Linked DNA regions of Homo sapiens: region 1 is linked to region 2. A link means that fine-mapping ties the variant in region 2 to the expression of a gene that starts in the linked region. Tissue or cell type: whole blood. Region 2 holds a variant in brackets; the other region holds the start of a gene. All regions are shown on one strand. Distances are from middle to middle.

Region 1 (2,607 bases), 240 kb after region 2:
TGTGCATGTGTGGAGGGAGGGACTAGAGGCAGCCACCAAGCCTCTGGGCCTGGGGACAAAAGGGATCAGTGCCCCCTCTGCTCAGCAACTCATGGTCAGCCGGAACTGGGAGGCAGCCTGAGATTGAGATTGGGTCTGAAGAGGGAAATTCATTGCCATCCTGAGCAACATGGCAAATCTGACTTCCAGTAAAACAGGAAAACGCTAAACACCCCATATCCTAGGGACGGAAAATACTGCCACGTGAAAGAGAACACAGTTCAAGTGATACCAATCATGGGGCTCATTAGCCGGTGTTGATTTTCAAGTACAATGCTCAAGCTACAATATAAAGGAAATGTCCTTTGCTCAGGACACAAATGAAGACCTCAGGGCCGTCATATACAGCAGTCACCAGGGAAGCCAGGCAAGCCTGGTGCCTGGTACAACTCCCCTCCACCTGCTTTGGGCTGTGCTTGCTACGGACCTGGGTTTCATTCATGCACGTCTCTGGGGAAAAAAAATAAATTACTGTGCGCAATTTACTGAGGGACTTGCAAAACAACAGAGAACCCAATTTGTGCAATCTGGATTTTTTAAAATGCAATAAAAGGTCCTTCTTTGTGCAGAAATATGCAGAAAGGAACTATTAGGTTCAGGTCATATTTATTTTTGACCTTCTAAAGAAGGACACTGGAGTCAAAAGGGACACAAACATATAGACCAAAATTAAAAGTGTGTATATCTAGATCTCTGTTTTGAACTCCAGAACTCACCAGACAGCACTGTGTGATCACGATCCTACCCTATTGGTCCTGGGAGATTTTTGGTGGCTTCTCTGTTAAATCGTTCGTGTCTGCTGCACTTAAGTAGCCACAAAATCCCCCGCAAGAAGGAAGGCTGCTGCAATCTCCCGCCCCGATCTGCGGGCCGCGTCCCCGCGAGCTGCCTGCGGGCGCGCTGGGAGCCGGCCCGGGGAGATGCGAGCGCAGGGAGATGCGCTCTGCTCCGGGCGCAGCGGGCAAGCTGCCGCACCTCCTACTTCTGTTGCCTGGCTTGGGGCCAGGAGAGCGGCAACCCGGGGCCGGCTCCGGAGCTGGACATATCCGGCGTCTCCGGGGCCAGGGTCTGCGGGTCCCCGGCGCTGCGTCCTCCCGACCCGCTCCCCGCGGCGCCCGGGTCGCGCCTTGCGGCAGTCACCGAGCTGAGGGCAGGGCGTCCCAGCGTCCCTGGCCCCGGCCCCGCTCCGCAGCGCGCCGCACCCCGAGGCTCGGGCCCCGCACAGCTGCAGCCGGTGCCCTCCGGCCAAGCCCCCGCCTGGCGTCCCCGGCCCCAGCCCCGGCCGCCCGCCGCTGACCTTTTCCTGCGCGCGGTTGAGTCGCTTCTGGACGTTCTTGGCGAAGATGCCCGTCTTGATGTCGGCCATGGCTGCGGGTCCGGGGAGCTGCGAAGAGCAGAGCGCGCAGCGGGGCTGGCGGCGGCGCGGAGGAGCGGGAGGAGGAGCGGGAGGAGGAGGAGAGGGCCGAGCAAGGGAGGAGCGGGAGAAGCGGCGGGGAGCCGCGGAGCGCGGAGGGGTGAGGGCGGGGCGCGGCGGCGGGACCAGCTTAAAGCGACAGAGCGGGGGCGGGATGCGTCGGGACTGGCTGTGACATGGGGAGAAGGGGCGGGGGAAGAAAGAGAAAGAGGCCAAGAAAAAGAGAGGGAAAAGCCAGAAGCCAGATTGTCTCCTCGATGATAGAAGAGTTTCGAGAGGAGAAAGGGAACCAAGCCTAGCAGAAGTCCCTGGGCCCAGGGGCAGCTCGGGGGTTCTTTTAATGCAGTTTGTATTTGGGGAGAGTGAGGGGACCTGATTCTTTCCAGCAAAAAAAGAAATAGGGGAGACAAAAAAGGGAAGAACCCTAGGGATGTGGAAGCCAGCTGGATTGGAACTGCTCTGAAGTGGAGCTGATGGGGCTGGTCCCTTGCTGCTCCCAAAAGTTTCCAGCTAACAGAGGCCCCTCCATACACCCTGGGTGTTGCAGAAGAAGGTATGGAGGTCGCCCTACCCTCAGGAGGCTCACAGCCCAGTGAGGGGCCCTGGCTGGGAAACCAACGAAGTCAGAGCTGCAGGAGAGAGGCGTGTGGAGAGCAAAGCGGGGAGAGACCATCGCTGACACTTGTTTAAACTTTAAAACAAGAGTTAGCAGGGCGGGGAGGTCCGCGTTGAGAAAGGTCAGCTTCCGGAAGACAGGCGATGTGTTTTGGTCATCTCCAAAATTCCTGTGCTGGGCAGAAACCTTAGAATAGACTACTCTTCAAGAAATGGTGCATGGAACAGTCAAGTCCCTTATAGCTTCGCATCAACCATGGAAGACCCAGTCCCCCCTAACTTGTTGCTTCCTTGGAAACCTTTTGGCAACCTTAACAGGGACTCACCATCCCTATTATTCTTATTAATGCTTGGGAGAAGTACGAATAATAGGGATAAACCTGCCCTACACCTAGAGCTCTTGTTGGCTCTGACCAGTGGTCAAACTATTCATATTCCATTCTCACTGAGAGTGTGAGGAGAAGAAGTCAGGTGGTGCCCTGCAAACAGAGGTCAGAAGTGGTCACTCACAGTGAATCCTATGAGTCCAGGTGAGCATC
Region 2 (2,500 bases):
CAATGCTGCTCTGAGGCAGTGCCGAGCAGGGCCCCCTCCCGCCTCATGCACGGACCTAATGGCCCTGGTCCCTTTGTTTCCCTTCTCAAAGTGCCACCCAGTGGTGGGCTCTTGGTAAAAGGGGCCTGATGGTGAATTTGGGGCACTCTAATGATAATAATAACCACCAAACAGTAATAAGAATAATAAGATCTAAATACTATTGAGTTCTCCCTGGGCTGAGTGCTCACTTCATCACATTCTCTTTCTCCCGGCTCCATTCTCATCCTTTTCACTGTCCTGCTTCATTCCTTTCTCCACGTCACCCCAGTTTCCCATTCCCGTTTCCATGCTTAGGCCCAGTCAGCCACAGGCCCTGAGGGCCTATATGCAACATTGCAATGCTGATACTGAGCAGCTGGGATTAGTCTTTCTGAGAATCTGATAATAATGTTGTTTGGTGGAGTCACAAAATTGCTACAAACCTATTATACATCCAAAGAGTTATCACCATGAACCAACCAACAGAGCACCCAGCCCATGCTACTTCCCAGGAGCTCCCCTGGCTGCGACATGGGACACTCACCTGAGGCACTGTTGCTTCGAGCTCCTCTGCTTCAGGTTGGGCACTCTCTGCACCCTCAGTGGTTTCAGTTCCAATTTTGGCCTCCTCTAAACTTACTCCTTCCCCGGCAGGGACAGTGGCCTTCTCCGCCTCTGCTTCCTCTCCTGGGGCCCCCTCAGCTGCTGACACCAAGGTTCCAACAGCTGCATCAGCATCAGCTCCAGGTATGATCTGCAGGGCAGAAACCAGCAGGCCACGTCTGCATCTCCATGGGCCTCTGCCAGGAGTCAAACTCAAGCCTATTTCTAATCTCCCCTCTGTGGAGGCTATTCAGATTTGGAACATTCTTTGCACTCCCAGGATTTAGGTACAGCAGAATCTGCCATCTATTCATCAACACTCCGACTTCTCTTCTGCTGAGCTCCCAACAATTCTACACTCCTCAGCTTTCCCTGCTGTCAGGTGTAGCAAATGGGATTAGAATGGAAGTGACATACACCATTCCAAAGACATGGCTTTTAAGGTGTAGGTGGTCCTCTCCACAAGCTATTTCCATTTTTATTGGCTGGAAGCAACAAATGAGGCCTTAGGGGAGTGAAAGAAATAAAATTGAATCTCGGGACCTTAAACTTACCATGCCAAAGGAAAGCTAAGCTTGGGAACGGAGTCACACGAAAACCACCTTCCTTTTGTTCCCAAACACAGGGCTGTAATTTCACACACTTCCTTCATCTTATGTAACATGCAGAACTACAGAGCATGAGATGAAGGCATGAGTGA[G/C]TTTGTCCCCACTCCCTCTTTTCACATGTAAAATGTAGATTCACTGAGCGCTAATCAGAGCCTCACAAGAATGTGACACTTGCCTCATTGCCTAACCACCCTCTTTTTAAAAAAATTATTTCCTTCTTGCTTGCTATTTCCCCTTTAAATACTGAAGTTCTCAAAACTCTCTTCAGAAAAAGCACACGTCACAGATCCTCCTTTGACTCGTGTCTCTTTTTCCTGGGTGCATCCTTAACCTTGGCTAAATAAGCCTCTCCATGACTAAGACGTGCCTTGGTCACTTTTTGATTTACATGGCACATCTGGGTCACAGGATGGAAGTGGCCTGGGTCAGAGAGAAAAGCCATATCAGAAAAGCATCCTCATCACACAAAGTCAAAATTTAGAAAGAGTGCATTTTAGTATAAACTTTCAAATCTTTGTGAGGAAGGTTCCAGAAGCCAAATCACTTTCACAGGAAAAAAAAATACATAAGGAAGCTTTCTCAATGAAAACCCTCGAGAATGAAGGGGAAATCATTTTTGTAATCAAATATGCATGGTAATGCTCCAAATAGCTGTAGAGCCTGTTATAGGCAAAATGCCAAAATCATAGTTTAGGTCCAGTAAGGAGAAGTGAAATAGAAAAAAGTCAGAATTTTCTTTCTAAGGTAGAAACACAGAAGAAGAGTTTTAAGTACTATTTAAAATTTGAGATAATGAAATAAAGGAAATGCAATCAGAAATTTTAGTTTTGAACAAATGGGTTGGAGTCCAACTCTTTAAACAGGATTCTGACAACATCAGCTTGGCAGACTTGATTTGAGAGGTTCACGTGAGAAAGACTATGTTAGAAGAATCTCAGGTTGATCTTATATAATATATCCGGGACACATATTTCAAAAATGGCTCTTACTATCTGATGGGATTAGGATTAACTATTTTTTCTTTGTTGAATACATTCTATCCAGTTCAACATCTTAAGTTAGGAAGGCCCTAATATTGCAAATATTAACTTTCAAACTCAGAAAACAGAAAAGGACAATGAAGAGTACCTCCGAGTGAGCATCAGAAATCGGAGATGAAGAACATGAACCACACATCTACACTTATAACAAAGCAGTTTTAAAAACGTTTCTGCTGGCTCAAAGGTACAGGTAATAGTTTAAATAAAAATGCCTGTTACAGAATATAT

Evidence for each region. PIP is the estimated chance that this variant, and not a neighbour inherited with it, causes the effect.
Region 1: it holds the start of AMPH, and the variant in region 2 is fine-mapped to the expression of AMPH in whole blood (TOPMed, PIP above 0.99).

What each region holds. Positions count from the first base shown.
Region 1 is chr7:38,629,947-38,632,553 of GRCh38, forward strand. It overlaps AMPH (amphiphysin), which reads right to left and starts at 1,427. Exons shown (of 21, transcript NM_001635.4): 1 at 1,337-1,427. The coding sequence starts at 1,405.
Region 2 is chr7:38,393,440-38,395,939 of GRCh38, forward strand. It overlaps AMPH (amphiphysin), which reads right to left. Exons shown (of 21, transcript NM_001635.4): 18 at 566-775. Among named protein-coding and RNA genes, the nearest start is that of TRG-AS1, 53 kb to the left of the region's middle. RefSeq lists enhancers at 540-589, 1,097-1,266, 1,539-1,708, 1,630-1,799. The variant G/C (reference allele first, on the strand shown) is at 1,325.